3 linked regions of the Homo sapiens genome follow. The protein of the gene in region 2 purifies or fractionates together with the protein of the main gene of each other region. This does not show direct contact. Each region holds a gene or a part of one and is shown on either strand. Other genes may lie near its edges.

Region 1 (7,033 bases), on a different chromosome or scaffold from region 2:
ATTAAGTGCAAGTGAACCAAAACAGTTCAGATAAAAGACAAAGTCTGTCAGACTGGATTAAAAAATTATTGGCATATTCAACATCATTAATCATCCGTGATATGAAATTTAAAACCAAAATGAAATACGTCCTCACATCCACACAAATGGCTAGAACTACAAAAACTGACAATACCAAGTATTGGAGAGGATGTGGGCAACCAAAACAAACTCTTATGTCTCTTCACTTTGTTGATGAGTGTAAACTGTTACAACCACTTTAAGGGACTGTTTGGCAGGATGGCAGGATCTACTAAAGCCGACCATATGCACACTCCATGACTTAGCAATTCCACTCGTATATATCCAACAGAAATGTTTACGTATGTATACCAAATCACACGTACAAGAATGGCCTCAATGGTCCCCAAACAGAAATAATCCATATATCCAACAACAGTAAAATGGATAAATCATGGCACAGTTGTATAACAGAATATTATAAAGCAATGAAAAAGAATGAACTACTGCCACACTCAACCACATGGATGAATCTAACAGGCGTAATGTTAAGAGAAAGAAGCCACACAAAAATGAATACACACCATATATATGATTTCCTTTATATAAAGTTTACATATGGACACAACTAATTTATAGAAGACAGAAAGTAGTCACCTTTCAGAGGGAGATTAGTGACTTAGAGGGTCATGACAAAGGCTTCTGGGGTACTAGTACAGTAGGATAAATTGGTTAAATAAGTATGTTCACTTTATTTGTTAATTTTACTATATGGATGTTAAACTTTAATTTCAAAAGTTTATTTAAAAAAAACCCAAACACTGATTCTTATCAGCAAAAACAAAAACAATCTTGGAGAAAATTGGAACAAGTATAAGTCAGAAAAAAAAATTTGGTATAATAATAAATATACAAAGAATCAATGTAAGATAAACCAGTAAAACAAAATTTGAACACACCAACAGAACAACAAAAGACATGAATAATGTAAAGGAAAATAAATAGGCCAATAAGCATAATGAAATACAATTCAGCCAGGCACACTGGCTAAGAGGTGAAGGTGGAAGAATCACTTGAGCCCAGAAGCTCATGGCCAGCCTGAGCAACATGGCAAGACTTCATCTTTAAAACTAAAATAAAATCGAAAAATAAAAAGTAATACAATTCAAAACAATCATGAAATAGTGTTAAAAATAAAAACCATATGACTGTCTCAATAGACATGAAAAAGCATTCAATAAAATCCAGCATCTCTTCATGATAAAAGCCCTCAACAAACTAGGCATCAAAACAATATCCCCAAAATAACAAGAGCCATCTATGATAAATCCACAACTAACATCATGCTGAAAGGGCAAAAGCTAGAGGCATTCACCTTGAAATTAGAAAAAGACAAGGATGCTCACTCTAACCACTCCTATTCAACATAGTACTGGTAGTCCCAGCCAGAGCAATCAGGAAAGGAAAAGAAATAAAATGCACCCAAATAAGAAAAGAAGTCAAACTATCTCTCTTCACAGATGATATGCTTCTATACCTACAGAACCCTAAAGATTCCACCAGGCCAGGTGCGGTGGCTCACGCCTGTAATCCCAGCGCTTTGGGAGGCCAAGACAGGGTGGATCACCTGAGGTCAGGAGTTTGAGACCAGCCTGGCCAACATGGTGAAACCCCATCTCTACTAAAAATACAAAAATTAGCTAGGCACGGTGGCAGGCACCTGTAATCCCAGCTACTCGGGAGGCTGAGGCAGGAGAATCTCTTGAACCCGGGAGGCAGAGGTTGCAGTGAGCTGAGCTCGTGCCAGTGCACTCCAGCCTAGGCAACAAACAAGAAAACTCCATCTCAAAAAAATAAAAAAAGTTCCACCAAAGGCGCCTGGAACTGATAAAGAACTTCAATAAAGCCTCAGAATATAAAATTAATGTACAAAAGTCAGCAGCATTTCTATACGCCAGTAACGTTCAAGCTGAGAGCCAAATCATGAATGCAATCCCATTTACCATGTCCACACAAAAAATAAAATACCTAGAAATACATCTAACTAAGATGTATTTCTACCAGGTATTTTTACATCCATACATCTTGGTTAGATATATTTTTACCAAGTAAAAGATCTCTACAAGGAGAACTATAAAACACTGCTGGAGGAAATCACAGATGACACAAACAAATGGAAAAACATTATATGCTCGTGGATTGGAAGACTCAATATCGTTCAAATGACCATATTGCCCAAAGCAATCTACAGATTTAATGCTATTTCTATCAAACTACCAACATCATTTTTCACAGAACTAGAAAAATATTCTAAAATATGCATGGAACAAAAAAAAAGCCTAAATAGCCAAAGCAATCCTAAGCAGAAAGAACAAAATTGGAGGCATCACATTACCACTGGATTTCAAACTATACTATAAGGCTACAGTAACCAAAACAGCATGTTACTGGTACAAAAACAGACACATACACCAATGGAACAGAAAAGAGAACCCAGAAATAAAGCTGCAGACCTACAGCACCTCATCTTTGACAAAATGGGGAAAGATCCCTCTATTCAGTAAAGGGTGCTGGGAAAGTTGGCTAGCCATATGCTGAAGAATGAAACTGGACCCCTACCTTTCACCATACATAAAAATTAACTCAAGATGGATTAAAGATTTAAAGTAAGACCTCAAACTATAAGAATCCTAGAAAAAAACCTAGGAAATACTTTTCTGGACACTGGCCTTGGGAGAGAATTTATGACAAAGTCCTCAAAAGCAATTGCAACAAAAACAAAAACTGACAAGTAGGACCTAATTAAACTAAAGAGCTTCTGCACAGTAAAAGAAACTATCAACCCAACAAATGGACAACCTATAGAATGGGAGAAAATATTCACAAACTATGTGTTGGACAAAGGTCTAATATCCAGGATCTACAGGGAATTTTAACAATTCAATAAGAAAAAAAAAACTCATAAAAAGTGGGCCAAAAAATATGAACAGACATTTCTCAAAAGAAGATATACAAGCAGCCAACAAACATGAAAAAAATCCTCAACATCACTAATCATCAGAGAAATGCAAATCCAAACTACAATGAGATACCACCTCATACTCCTCAGAATGCCTATTAAAATAAAAAAAACAGTTGCTGGCAAGGCTACAGAGAAAAGGGAATTCGTGTTCACTGATGGTGGGAATGTAGATAAGGTTAGCCATTGTGGGAAGCAGTTTGGAGATTTTTTAAAGAACTCAGAACTACCAAGGTTGGGCACAGTGGCTCATGTCTGTAATCCCAGCACTCTGGGAGGCTGAGGCAGGTGGATCACTTCAGGTCAACAGTTCAAGACCAGCCTGCACAACATGGTGAAACCCCATCTCTACCAAAAAATACAAAAATTAGCTAAGCTTGGTGGCGGGCGGGCGTATGTAGTCCCAGTTACTCAGGAGGCTGAGGTGGGAGAATTGCCTGAACCCAGGAGGTGGAAGTTGCAGTGAGCTAAGATTGTACCACTGTACTCCAGCCTGGGTGACAGAGTGAGGCTCTGTCTCAAAAAAAAAAAAAAAAACCACAAACAACCTCCCAAAAAAACCAAAAAACATAGAACTACCAGTCAACCCAGCAATCCCATTACTGGTTATATATCCAAAAGAAAAGAAAATGTTCCACCAAAAGACACATGCACTCATATGTTCATCACAGCAACGACACTGACTCAACCTGGGTGCCCATCAGTGGTAGACTGGGTAGAGAATGTGACACACACACACACACACACACACACACACACGGACACACACACACCACAGAATACTATAAAGCCATAAAAAAGAACAAAATCATGCCTTTCGCAGCAACATGGATGCAGCTAGAAGCCATTATCTTAAGTGAGTTAATGCAGAAACAGTAAACCAAATACCGTATGTTCTCACTTGTGGAAGCTAAACATTGGATACACATGGACATAAAGATGGAAACAATAAGCACTGAGGACTGTTAAAAAGGGGAAAAGAGGAAGGGACAGAAGGGGGAAAAGAGTTAAAAAACTAACTACTGGACACTATGCTCACTGCCTAAGTGATGCAATCAACTGTACCTCAAACTTCAGCATCACACAATATACACATGAAACAAATCTGCACGTTACCCCGAATTTAAAATAAAAGTTGAAATTATTTTTTAAAAAATCATGAGAGCTAGGCACAGTGGCTCATGCCTATAATCCCAGCACTTTGGGAGCCCGAGGTGGGCAGATCACCTGAGGTCAGGAGTTCAAGACCAGCTTGACAAATATGGTGAAACTCTGTCTCTACTAAAAATACAAAAATTAGTTTGTGGCGGTGCACGCCTGTAATCCCAGCTACTCAGGAGGCTGAGGTGTGAGAATCGCTTGAACCCAGGAGATGGACGTTGCGGTGAGCTGAGATCGCACGACCGCACTCCAGCCTGAGCAACAGAGGGAGACCCTGTCTCAAAAAAAAAAAAAAAAAAAAAACCATGAGACTTTTCTTTCTTTTGAATCAATCTGGCCGTGATTTAAAGGCAGATAATAGTCAATTATGACCTGGGTAATGAAAACAGGTCAGAAGTGGTCATGGAGACTCAAAACAGATCTGTCTGATTTTAATCAGAAGCATCGACCTTAAGAGTCAAACAGAGGCTGGGCGTGGTGGCTTACACCTGTAATCCCAGCACTTTGGGAGGCTTGAGCCCAGGAGTTCAAGACCAGCCCTGACAGGATGGTGAAATCCTGTCTCTATAAAAAAAATTAAAAAATTAGCTGAGCATGGTAGTGTGCACCTATAGTCCCTGCTATTTGGGAGGCTGAGGTGGGAGGATTGATTGAGCCTGGGAGGTGGAGGCTTCAGTGAAATGCGTTTGTGCCACGGCACTCCAGCCTGGGTAACAGAGGAAGACTCTGTCTCAAAAAAAGAAAAAAAAGAAAAAAAAAAAAAGCCAAAAAGATCTGTCATAACCTGGGGTAAGGCACTCAACCTCTCCCAACTTTACTTCTCTAACCTATACAATGTGGATAATATAATTTTGAAGGGCTTAAAATCATACACTCGCATATATGTTTGTCATGTGATTAGTACTGAATAAAAGCTTCTTTTCCTCTCTGGCGCAGGGAGACTGATAGAATTTTTTTTTTTTTTTGAGATGGAGTCTCGTGGAATCTCGCTCTGTCGCCCGGGCTGGAATGCAACGGCATGATCTCGGCTCACTGCAACCTCCGTCTCCTGGGTTCAAGCGATTCTCCTGCCTCAGCCTCCTGAGTAGCTGAGATTACAGGTGCCCACCACCATGCCTAATTTTTTGTACTTTTAGTAGAGACGGGGTTTTACCATGTTGACAAGGCTGGTGTCGAACTCCTGTCCTCAAGTGATCCACCTGCCTTGGCCTCTCGAAAGTGCTGGGATTATAGGTGTGAGCCACCAGGCCCAGCCCTGACAGACTATTAAAACAGTTTCAAATAGATTTTGGTGAATTTATACCCTTACCTGCTGCAAATTCCTCAATTGTCATCAGTGGGAACCGGATTAAGGAAAGTGCTTTTCCTAGAACTTTTTGTTTATTCCCAAAAGTCACAGGTAATTGTTGTCTCTGACATTCTGCTTCTGCCCAGCGTACAACAGCTCCAAAAAGTCGACTTTCTCGAATACTGAGTGTGTCTCTCTCTAAAACTGCACAGAGTGTATCTATAGGCAAAATACAAAATAAACCCAATTAGAAATATTTTAGCTCTCTAACCAAGCAATACCAACAGACACACTTATATTAAGTTTTCAGATCTCAACAAAAAATAGGTTAGACACTTAAAACTACAGACTTTATACTTTAAAATACTAAATAATTAAAGGACTTAAACTCCAAAGTGTTCCATAAAAATCAGTTTAACAATCAATTTATTACTTACCATACATGCAATATTAAGATACAGTACTCTCCTTATATATTTATGCCATTTATCAAGTAAACTCAACTATCCAGAATAAGATTAACAAGCCACAGAAAAAGGTTCCAATTACATAAATTCTTAAAGTCTACAGATTATAATTCATTCGTTCATTCAGTAAATATTTATTATTAAGCACTACGTGCCAGGTACTATTAGGCAATTTTATATATATATATATATATATATATATATGTATGTATATATTTTGGATATAGAGTCATAGAGTCTCATTCTGTTGCTCAGGCTGGAGTGCAGAGGCACAATCTCGGCTCAATGCAACCTCTGCCTCCTAGGTTCAAGCAATTCTCCTGCCTCAGCCTCCTGGGTAGCTTGGATTACTGGCACGGGCCACCACACCTGGCTAATTTTTATATTTTTAGTAGAGACAGGGTTTCACCATGTTGGCCAGCCTGGTCTCAAACTTCCGACCTGAAGTGATCTGCCTGCCTCGGCCTTCCAAAGTGCTGGGATTACAGGCGTGAGCCACCGCGCCCAGCCAGCACTGATATATCACTGAACAAAAAGTTAAAAATTCCTGCCCTCATGGAGCTTACATTCTAATGAGGAGAAACAGATTAAATAAACACAAGTAAATTCGAGTATCTTAGATGATATACATGGGCAAATATGTCAGGTTAAGGAGAATCAGAAATGCAGTTTAAAATAGGAAGGGGCCAGGCATGGTGACCCATGCCAGTAGTCCCAGCAATTTAAGAGGCTGAGACAGGAGCATGGCTTGAGCCCAGGAGTTTCAGGCCAGCCTGGGCAATATAGTGAGACCCCATCTCTACAAAAAAGTTTTTAAAAATTAGCCAGGCATGGTGGCATGCACTTGTAGTCTCAGCTACTCAGGAGGCTGAGACAGCAGGATCACTCGAGCCTGGGAGGTTGCAGGCTGCAGTGAGCCATGATCATGCCATTGTACTCCAGCCCAGGCAACAGAGTGAGACTGTGCCAAAAAATAATAAAATAAAATAAAATCGGGTGGTTTAGGCAGGCTTCACTTATGCCAAGACATGAAGGAAGTGGGGGAGTAAGCCAAATAGATACCTAGAGGAATAGTATTCCAGGACTAAAAGTACAAAG
Region 2 (4,578 bases):
GTCAGTGCCTCATGTGCCGATGGGATTGAATGCAACCATTCCAGATGTGTGGTTTCTGAAAGTTCCCAGAACTTTCAGAGGTTGTCAAAGTCCCCCTCCAGATGAGGAATACACTGCTGTTCCTCCCATCGCATGCTCTTTTCTGGGAATGACTCAATTCAGAGGTACTAATTCTGGTTTTTCTTGTTTAGGACCAGTGTGACCAACGCCCAGCCACTGCAACCAACCATGTGACAGAGGGGATTCCTAGACTGGATTCCCAGCCTCAAGAGACCTCACCAGAGCTGCCCAGGAGGCGTGTCAGACACCAGGGTATTTATTAGCCAGGACTCAGCCAAGGCCGCAGGTCTACTGCTGGCTCCGGCCTGTTTACCACTTCCCATCCACTGCTCTAATGTGGGGATTACCTGCATCTCAAATTTCCAAACACACTAGGGTCTCATAGGGGACTCCTCTGCAGGTAGTTGTGGTCCCACATTAGACTGAGCTCTCTCAAGTGTGTGATTTTTAGGGTAATGGCTTTGCGGACATCCATGAGATACATGTAGTAGTAAGTGCTTGTAATAAGTTTCTGGTTTCCTATCTGTGCACTTAGTGGATTATTTGTAGATAATTTGCAGACCTTATGGTAGCTACCCTGGGCCCCCATTTCAAGTTGAAATACACTTAGGGTACTCAAACCTATTATTATTATTTAATTTTTTTGTAGAGACAGAGTCTTGCTCTGTCACCCAGGCTGGAGTACAGTGGCACAATCATAGCTTACCACAGCCTCAAACTCCTGGGCTCAAGTGATCCTCTCTCCTCAGCCTCCCAAGTAGCTGGAACTACAGGCACACTCTACTACACCCAACTAATTTTTTTGTTTTTGTAGAGATAGGGTCTTGCTATGTTGCCCAGGGTGATTTCGAACTCTTGGCCTCAAGTAGTCCTCCTGCCTTGGACTCCCAAAGCATTGGGGTTACATGCGTAGGCCACTGTGACCGACCTCAAACTTATTTATTTAATTTATTTTTTTTAGACAGGGTCTCTTTGTCATCCAGGCTGGAGTGCAGTGGCGTGATCACTGCAGTCTCAACCTCTTGAGCTCAAGTGATTCTCCCACTCTTAGCCTCCTGAGTAGCTGGGACTATAGGTAGGCTAGGTGCCCACCAACACACCCAGCTAATTTTTAATTTTTTTTTGTAGAGTTGGGGTTTCGCCACATTGTCCAGGCTGATCTTGAACTCCTGGGCTCAAGTGTTCCTCCCAGCTCGGCCTCCCAAAGTGTTGGGATTACAGGTGTGAGCCATCACACCCAGCCTCAAACTTATTATTATTACTTAAGACCATCATGTTTAGGCAAGTAAACTGTTTTTGAAACCTCACCACTACAAAGCCAATTAGAAATTATTTTTTGGCTGGGCATGGTGACTCACACCTGTAATCCCAGCACTTTGGGAGGCTGAGGTGGGCGGATCACAAGGTTGGGAGTTCAAGACCAGCCTGGCTGACATCATGAAACCCCGTCTCTACTAAAAATACAAAAATTAGCCGGGCGTGGTGGCGGGCGCCAGTAGTCCCAGCTACTTGGGAGGCTGAGGCAGGAGAATCACTTGAATCCAGGAGGCAGAGGCTGCAGTGAGCCAAAATCATGCCATTGCACTCCAGTCTGGGCGACAGAGCAAGACTCCATCTCAAAAAAAAAATTATTTTTCAAGGTTTGCTTGCACACTATTGTTGAATAGTTAGGAGGCTGTCTTTGAGGACTCAGATAATATGTGCAGAATTGATAAAATATCCCCATCTCTGCCCTGGAGATGTGGGTTCCAGCAGCCTTTTGGGGTGAGCAGTTGTCTTTTTTTTTTTTGAGACACAGTCTTGCTCTGTCTTGTCCAGGCTGGAGTGCAGTGGCATGATCTTGGCTCACTGCAGTCTTCACCTCCTGGGTTTAAGTGATTCTCCTGGTCTCAGCCTCCTGAGTAGCTGAGACTATAGCTGTGTGCCACCTCACCTGGCTAATTTTGTATTTTTTTTTTAGTAGAGATGGAATTTCACCATGTTGGCCAGGCTGGTCTCTAACTCTTGACCTCAGGTGATCCCCGCACCTCGGCCTCCCAAAGTGCTGGGTTTACAGGCATGAGCCACCACGCCTGGCTGAGCAGTTGTCTTCTATCTGGAATCTTTTTGTTCCTGCCCTAAACCTGGCACTATAGCCAGAGCAGGCTTTTTCCTAAAGCTGTTACCATTTTCTCTTCTCAGGAGACCTGTCTTCTGGTTACCTGGATGATACTAAGCAGGAAACAGCTAATGGGCCCACCTCCTGTCTGCCTCCCAGCCGACCCATTAACAATATGACAGCTACCTATAACCAGCTATCGAGATCAACATCAGGCCCCAGACCTGGGTGCCAGCCCAGCTCTCCTTGTGTGCCGAAGCTCAGCAACTCAGACAGCCAGGACATCCAGGGGCGGAATCGAGACAGCCAGAATGGGGCCATAGCCCCTGGGCACGTTTCAGTGATTCGCCCTCCTCAAAATCTCTACCCAGAAAACATTGTGCCCTCTTTCTCCCCTGGGCCTTCAGGGAGATACGGAGCTAGGTAAGAATCAGTAGCCCAGGAATGGGGCTTGGGAGTAGCTGAAGCGAACATGGGCAAAGGCCTGGTTACCCTTGCCAGGCCTGGGGTAAGACTGAGGTACTTGCATGGTAAGGGGAGGAGTATGGATTTTCCCTGTATTGTCACCTGACTCCAAAAAAATTATTTTGTGGCCTATGGGTTTTTTGGGGTTTGTCTGCTAGCATAGGACTGCTTCCTGTTCCCTCTGAGTTTGTTGACCTTTGCTCAGGGACACTTCAGGAGCTAGTTTCTAATTGTTTTCTTTCAGTGGTAGGAGTGAAGGTGGCAGGAATTCCCGGGTCACCCCTGCAGCTGCCAACTACCGCAGCAGAACTGCAAAGGTAAGGTGGGCTCCAGCCCATGATGCTCAGTGGGGGACTCAGACATGGTGGGGCTTGTGTGGCTCCTGAAGTTGTAGAAGTTGTTGGGACCAGGCTGGTTGTGGTTCAAAGATTGTTCCTTTGGCTTTTGAGAAGGAGGTTTCTAAGGAAGCGGGACATTTTCGGGGATCCAGGGGAGGAGTAATGCTTTTTCACTTTTTATGTAAAGCTTCGTTTGTGTTGTGTTGTTCACCAGGCAAAGCCTTCCAAGCAACAGGGAGCTGGGGATGCAGAAGAGGAAGAGGAGGAGTAATGGTGTCTCCAGAGACTTTACATCGGTTCCTGTCTTCTGTGCACAGCAGCACTTGCCGCTGTGCAGGCCCACCTCTTTGGCTCTTTGGGTGGGAGAGTTTTTCCAGATTTTAGATTTTTCTAGGTTATGGCCATTTTGTGTCTTTTGAGGTTGTGCTGTGGGGGTTTGGGTTTGAGGGAAGGGAGCAGGGTGGCGGTTGAGGAACGCTTCAGCCTTAGCTGCTACCTTTCGGCAGCAGTGAAATACAAGCTGCAGCCTCGGCTGCCAGGGCTCCCTTTTGACTTATTGTCGCCACTGCCCCTTGGTGCTGTGTGGTCCCAGTGGAAGGAGGGGAAGATTTTGGAAACCTGGTAGCCACCAGTAAGGTGATTCTCTGCCCTGTTGGGGCCTAAATTTGGGGGCTTTTGGGCAACCTCTCCGTGTACTGCGTCTGTCCACACTCGATTGGGCCCCAGGTGTGTATGAGGCGCTCTGGTAAGGTGCTCAGGCCAGTTGCAATGTCTGTCAGTAACGAGGCTTTTGATGTGTTGAGCTGGAGGTGAGTGGACCGGGGGCTGTGTTTTAAGCTGCTTCCTTGGCATTTGGCATCACTGCCTTCTGTTCCCGGGGGAGCATGGATCTTTTGTCCTCACTGCTTTCTAATGGGGAGGGCTGAGGGCTCCCTGTCCCCACAGCAGGTATGTTGGGCTCTGCCCCAGCCCCACACTTGCTCTGAAAACCAAGTGTCAGAGCCCCTTCCCCTTGTTTTTATTTTACTGTTATAATAATTATTAACTTCCTTGTAATAGAAATAAAGTTTGTACTTGGAGTTCAGCTCAGTCTTGTGGTTCCTTCTCCTGTGTGCTTTAGAGACTGCAGGGAGGGCAGGGTAGGCTGGAGTCAGCCCTGGGGTTGGAGGAGGTGAGCAGGGCTGGGCTTTCTCCGGCACTCCAGTAACCCTCGCAGCTCCACCATGAGTCCCTTCTTGGAGTACACAGACATTGAACGTGTAGTGTTTTAAATTGGACTTCTGAGAAAACTGACAGGCTTGCTGCAGCTCCGGTGATGACTGGGGCTAGAAGGGGTGCCTCTGACTGAATAGAGAAAAGCAGATTCTTCAAAAGCCTTCATCCTGAGAGGAGTTGAGCCCTAGCAGGATTAGCTGTTACCCCTCAGTGCCTCCGTCTGCATAGGACCACTGAGCACCGTAGGTCATTTTGAGTTCCTTTGTTCTTCCAACAACCTGTTGGGGTGGGAAAGGTGGGAGGAACTGCCCTATTTCATAGATGGAACACTAGACACGGGAACCATGCGGCCAGTTCTTTGCAGAGGCAGGTCTCTGAAAAGAATTATCCTGAGAGAAAAAA
Region 3 (7,033 bases), on a different chromosome or scaffold from region 2:
CTAAGTAGAGATATTTCGTAAACAGAACTGGAGAAAAATTTTAAAAAATCTGAGCACTAGAGATTAAATTTTAGGGATCAACATAATACTAAGAGATAAAATGTGAGAATGGACAGGTTTTCTACTCTGTTCTTGATAATGTGGAAAAAGTACAATGAGTAGCTTGTTTTGTTGCCATGTTTCTTAGAAAATAGGACCAAACACCATTGAGAAAAATTCAGCATCTGTTACAGGAAAATTAGATACTGGTCCTTAATAGCTGATAGTAGCAACTGTATCTTTATATGCTTTTTAATTTTTATTTTTATGGATATATAATAGTTGTAAATATTTACAGAGTACATGTGATATTTTGATTCAAGCACACAATGAGTAATGATCAAATCAGGGTAAATGGGATATCCATCACCTCGAACATTTATCATTTCCTTCTATTAGGAAACTTCTAATTCTATTCCTCTAGTTATTTTGAAATATACAATAAATTATTGTTAACTATAGTTGCCCTATTGTGCTACTAAACAGTAAATCTTATTCCTTCTCACTGTATTTTTGTACCCATTAACCAGCCTGTCGTTATCCACCCCTCCCCTCTCCCTATCCTAGCCTCTGGTAACCAACATTCTACTTCTATCTTCATGCGATCAACTGTATATGTTAAGCCCTGCTTCTACCCATGGGCTTCATCCAAAAATTCCTCTCACACTAGTGTGCCTTCCTAAACCATCTTTAAAACCATCATTGATTCAATAATTCATCAACTCTGGGAGCTGAAGAAAAATTCTTATACTATGAACTTAAAAAAAGATGATCTGGTAACAGCTTCTGAAAATGTGTGTGTGAGAAATAAGCTAGGAATAGTGAAATACAATTAGCATAGACAGGTTGGTAATTAGGGTCTTCATCATTAATGACAAAGAGTATGAGGAATAATACAAAGTTCAAAGAAAAAAAGAATGAGTAAGAAAACAAATTTTGCCAGTAGTTAAGTCACCCAGCAAAATGGCCCAAAGCACTAATAAGAAAACCAAGTCTTAACTAAATGATTTTATTCACTTCCTACGTCTCTGTCCTTACTCTAATCCTTATGAACCTGAATTAATCAAGTATATAATATTTTTAGATTATATTAATTAAAGGCTATGCTCTATCTCAAAAAAGCAAGACAGTACGAGAGATGTATTTTGTTTCCTTAATAAAGAAAATATCAACAAAACCAACCATATAAATTAAGCATAACAAATATTTAAAATAAAAATCAATAAGCAGTGTTATTTTATGTAAAGACTTAGCTATCACACACAAATACTTTTACACTCTCCACAGAACTATGATACATTACCGTGTTCTCTCTAGTTTGGTATAGAAGCAACCTTGAATAATTTTAACAGCTTTTAATATAGCTAGATATTCTTTGTGTGCTCTCCAACATCTATACCAGGCTTGAATCTTGCAGGCAGCTTTCACTTTACATAAATATTTCTTGGCTCTATATCTCCTCCACATAGCCTATTAAATACATAAATATAACAAGTATGCAATGAGTTGTCTCTTTTTTTTTGTAAATAAGACAAATCAGTATAAAGACAGTTAAAATAAGGTTAGTGCAGACAAAAATAAATTGCATAGTCATATCATGACTCTTTTAGACTTTGACATGTAATGAGTCTTCTGAGAACAGTGGTGCTTACTATAGTGAACACGTATTATGTGCTTTATCACACATACCTTATGGCTGGCTGCCAGCCCAGCCTAACAAAACCCTAACCAGTATTTATAAATTGTAAGACACACATGTCTGAAAAGCCCCACATTATGTAAATTATCCTCATCACCTCAATCCATTTGGAAGAAAAGAAAATGAACACATTGACCTACTGCAGGTTCTGGGGAGAAAGAGGAATTCTTCCCAATCCATATTCACTTTGGGTTCTGTGTTCAGCCTGCAGGAGAATCCTGAGAGCTCCTGTGATAGGACTGTCAGACTTTCTGATTTTGACAACCTTCTGGAAGACTAAAGGTTTACATGACAGCTACAACTTATTGAACTAAGCACTAAGAAGATTAGTCCTTAATAATCACATGGGTAGATAATACTATTATCTCTAATTTAGAGATGAGGAAATCAAGGCCTAGAGAAATTGAGTAACTTGTTGATGTCACACAGGTTAATAAGTGGCAGAGTTGTCTTACTTAATATTTATAAATATCTTATAAAATGGTTAAGATCTCTGTTTTATAAAAAAGGAAAAAAATCCAAAATTGAAATTAAGAAGGACTTGTTAGCATATAGCTGTTAAGTGACAGAGTCAAGATTTGAACCCAAGTCTATTTGACTCCAACATCCCTACAGGAAGAGGAATTAAAAGAAATTAAAGACTGTGTAAGCAAAAACTCAGTTGTATGTAAGAAAACCCAATTCCCCTTGGGAAGAGAAAGGGCTGGAGTCCTTTAAAATTAACTGTGTTTTTCTCTCTGTGGCTAGTGAGCCTTATCTCTCCCTTTCCCAGGCATTGTGAAGACTGTTTCTCTAGCTGTGCAGCTGCAAGGACACTAGACAGATAATCTCAAGTTGTAAAACATGTTGTTCCTTAAAAAGTAAGAAATAATGTAATGCATCTCTTACTTGAATAACTGTCTTTGTTTCTCTCTTCTGTAATACGCTTCCCCCTGCACAGATCTCCCCATGCCCCACGAAATGCTTAAAAGGTAGCTTGACTCTTTGTTCAGGGCTCAGTCCTCTTTGGATGTTAATCCGACTGGGTCGGTGCACATAAATAATTAAATAATTCCTCCTCAAATCCCTCGGTCTCTCTGATTCCTTAATTATCCCGCAGCACAACAAATACTATAGGCACAACGTATATTTAGATTAGGTTCTAAATTCAGTTGATAATGCAATAATTATATATGGCCAAAATTACTCTGAGATGACCTTAACTCATTCAGACTATATTGTATACGGTTTTTATGTAAATCTGCATACATTATTTATGTATATCCCCAATACCTGCCACCTCAGTCTTAATCAGTGGTAGAAGAATGGTCTCAGAACTGTTTGTTTCAATTGGCCATTTAACTGTAACAGTAAAAGACTGGTTAATGGTAACACTGCATCATAAAACCTTCAGGAGGAAAGGAGAATGTTTTGTGGACCATTTTGGTGTTTTTGTTTTTGTTTTGCTTGTGGCAGTTATAAGTTACTAGTTTTTAAAATCAGTACTTTTTAATGAAAACAAATTGACCGAAAATCTGTCACAGAATTTTGAGACCCATTAAAACAAAGTTTTAATGAGAAAATTATATATATGTATAGATATACGTGTGTGTATATATATATTTACAAATATATATATATATACACACACACACATCACACCTGAAGAACATCAAAATTTACAGACATTGACAAGAGAAGCCAACATAGCGTTAAGAGGGAAAGAAGACAGCTAAGAGATTATGGTATCAAGAAACCAAGGGTTGAGAGAAGAAACAAAGTGTGCTTAAATCCCAAATGCTACAGAGAAGTTGATATATATATATATATAAAACATACATATTTACATATATATGTAAGTATTTAGTAATGTATACTATATCCCAGTGGCTCCCAAACTTCGCTGCTCATTAGAGTCACCTGGGAGCTTTGAAACAAATCCCACGCTTGTGTTGCTTCCCATACCAATTAGAATATCTAAAGGTAGGAGTATGTTTTAAAATTCCAGGTGACTCCAATATGCAGTAAAGTTTTAGACCACTGGCATAGGCTAAAAATTATATGTGTAAAATACAATTTTATTATGTAATTATGTAAGAGAAAAAAATTTTTATAAGATTGTTATTTTGGCTATTTAATCATTTTAAGTGAATAAAACCATAACTAATACATCCAATGAACACCTTTCAATTGTGAACTTCTCAGTAGTGTTAGGAATTTGATACCATAATCTCTTACCTTTCTTCTTTCCCTCTTAACACCTTGGTTTCTTGATACCATTAATCTCTTACCTTTCTTCTTTCCCTCTTAACACCTTGTTGGCTTCTCTTGTCAATGTCTGTGAATTTTGATGTTCTTCAGGGCTCAAGTCCCAGGCCCTCTTTGTTCACTCATTTTATGTATTGTTCCTTGGTGATCTCATTATTCCCAGAACTTTAATTATTAGCATATGCCCATAATGTACAAATCAAATTCTAATACTCACACTACTCTCCTGAACTCCAGACAAACATAGTCAACTGCCTTACTAGATATTTCAAGGGGGTTACCTGCTAGGTACTTCAGATCTTATATACTCCAAACTGAATTCATCATCAATCTCAAAACCTGCTCTTCCCTCTTTATTCCCTATGTCAGGGTGTGAGGGAGTAACTCTGCTGAGTTACTTAAGCCATCAACATGGCTTGCCTCCTTGTTCATGCTCTATATAATGCCAACTTACAATCCCATTGTCACAAACCTACACTGAACTATAACTCTTTCTCACCTGGCTTACTGCCTATTTTCATTTGGTCTACCTGATTCTAGTCTTGCTCCTTTTCCAGTCCATCTTCCACATTCCTGCCAGAGTAATTTTTTTTTTTTTTTTAATAAAAATGACTGTGGTCTTCTCCTGCTTAAACTCCTCTAGAATTTGTTTTGTCTGGAGCATAAAGACTAAATTTTTTCTGTCTTAAAAATCTATCCACAATCTTACTCCCTCTATTGCCAACCTGGTCCCATATCACTTTTTATTGTTTCTAGTTTTTTGATTTTTCCACGTTATCTCTTGCAATTGGAATATTCTTCTATACCTTTTACTGGGCTATTTCTAATTCATACTTCAGTGTAACATTTCAACTTAAATGTTACTCACTCTGGGAAGTCTCTGACCATGGAGACTAGCTTGATTTCCCATTCTGTGTTTCCTGAAACATACACTTCTCATGTTGTATTATAATTATACTTCCTTGTTCAATTAAGTTCCTTGAGGACAGCAACTAAGTATATCTTACTCATTGTCTATTTATAACACCCACTACAGCATTTGGCACATTTCTAGCACTTGACATTTCTTGAATTAAAACATTATTTCTAAATTTAACAGTAATCCAGTAAGATATGAACATATCACATCTGGGTTAAAGCCTGGGTTATTGCAGGTAAAAAGAAATAGCTGAAGTACTTAGATTCAGTTCCTGGATCTGCCTCTCTCTATGCAACATTGGCCAAATTACTTAAACTTTATCACTTCCTTCATATTTTAAAAGAGATAATACTGTACATTCCTCACACATTTGGCAAATAGACAAAACAAAATAATACAAAATTGATTTGGAAGCCAAAGTACTAAACACTCAGAATAAAGTATGTCTACTAGCCTAAGCAGCAAACAGCTCTGGTTAATAGATTATTAGAGGAACAAAGTTACTCTATTTTGCCTATATTATGCCAAATAATACTTTATCTTAGCTTATATTTTCCACTTAAAGAAATAACTTTGCCAAATACAGGACTCCTATTTTCTCAAAATTCTTCTAAGAGTGCTACAATTAACCCATACTGAAATGCACCACACATAGGGTGACCATGGCCAGAACAATCCCCGTTCTGTGCTGTCTTGGCTGACTTACTAGTGCCCTTTCCCTCTTTCAAAAATGTTCCACTTTGGAAGATAAATGGTCACCTCAACTAAGTACTATTCTTTATGACCTGCTTAAGCTCATTTTATACATTCTAACAAATATTGGTCAAAAGAAAGACTCACAGTTTTATATTTAAATTAAATATAGAAATACCTGAATTTTTATGGTGCTATTTTTAATTTCCTGAAACTTCCGTTTCTGTATAAATCCTTTACTTCTAGCTTGAATAATGATAACACTGCTTCTGATCTGTAAATAGACTTGTCTTTGATGTTTTGCAGACAGAAATGCTCTGTAGTGATTTTGTAAAACCACTGCTGCTTTTCTATATAGTAAAAACTGTTTTCTGGTTTGCCACGTCCTAAAATAATGCTGTAAAGTGATAGCAGCTCTTTTCTGCTGAACAAATCTTCTCCGATACACAGCCATCTGAAGGAAGAACTGAATCCGTAGGGCAGCACATTTCTGTGTTTCCAGTTTTCTTGTGACCATTCTACAAAAAGCTTTTTGAATTGTTACTGCAGCCCTACTTTGAGAATGATACTCTGCTTCCTGTGAACAAGCAAGGCCAGAAGCTTTATACCACTCTTGAATCATAACACCTTCACTTTGAACAGCTTCATACTGAGTTTTACTTCTGTAACAGCAGAGTGCAGATTGGTTAACAATGGCTGCCATCTTTTCCTCTGATACATTTTTCAATTTTTGTCTAACTTTCATGCCTCTAAAAGCAGCCTGAATAGTTCGTACAGATTTCTGAACTGCTAAAAAGTTTTTTCTTTCTGTTTTTACTCTAACATACAACCTATAATAATTCTGTATAACCACAATTGCAGTTTTCTTTGTTTCATAATCAACTTTGGCCCTGTGCATTCGATAGAATGACTGAATTAGTGTGGCAGCCCGGTGCATATTTTGAATATCCTTTCGTACTTTAAAGCCTCTGTAATAAGACTGTATACAAATAACTGCTTGGGTACGCACTGCAGTTAGTTTTCTGTATCTTCTTTGAATAGAAACTACTGTTGCTCTAAGGTGGAGATAATGCTTCCTTATTTTAAAGGCTTTACAATGCTTCTGAATAATAATGGCAGCCTGGTGCTGTTCCTGAATCTGTTTTTTTATGTTCATGTCCTGAAAACCTGCCTGAACACAAGTCTCTTTCTTAAGTTCATTGTGTTGAAATACTTTCTGTTTCTTTTTATTTGCTCTATATTTTTCTTGTATGATTTTTGTAGCCCACTGAAGCTTTTGGTAGAAACAATACTGCCTATACATTCTGTAGGTGCTTTGTATTACGATAGAAGCTTTGTGTTTTTCCCTTAAAAGTTGTCTTGCTTTCATTCCTTTATATGCAGCCTGAATAACCACAGCAGAATGCCATTGTCTGATATAATTTTCTCTTTGTAAT

Evidence for each region. The genes of interacting proteins can lie anywhere in the genome.
Region 1: the proteins of TRAFD1 (region 2) and BTBD1 purify together in Homo sapiens (affinity purification with mass spectrometry; 2 studies listed by BioGRID and IntAct, with this or other methods). This does not show direct contact.
Region 3: the proteins of TRAFD1 (region 2) and ASPM purify together in Homo sapiens (affinity purification with mass spectrometry; 3 studies listed by BioGRID and IntAct, with this or other methods). This does not show direct contact.

What each region holds. Positions count from the first base shown.
Region 1 is NC_000015.10:83,036,239-83,043,271, forward strand, and holds part of BTBD1 (BTB/POZ domain-containing protein 1), read right to left. Parts: intron 5,688-7,033; coding exon 5,490-5,687; intron 1-5,489.
Region 2 is NC_000012.12:112,149,560-112,154,137, forward strand, and holds the end of TRAFD1 (TRAF-type zinc finger domain-containing protein 1), read left to right. Parts: intron 1-191; coding exon 192-312; intron 313-2,241; coding exon 2,242-2,581; intron 2,582-2,867; coding exon 2,868-2,940; intron 2,941-3,175; coding exon 3,176-3,232; 3' UTR 3,233-4,045; downstream 4,046-4,578. UniProt on the Homo sapiens protein: Negative feedback regulator that controls excessive innate immune responses. Regulates both Toll-like receptor 4 (TLR4) and DDX58/RIG1-like helicases (RLH) pathways.
Region 3 is NC_000001.11:197,094,656-197,101,688, forward strand, and holds part of ASPM (abnormal spindle-like microcephaly-associated protein), read right to left. Parts: coding exon 5,776-7,033; intron 1,510-5,775; coding exon 1,343-1,509; intron 1-1,342. UniProt on the Homo sapiens protein: Involved in mitotic spindle regulation and coordination of mitotic processes.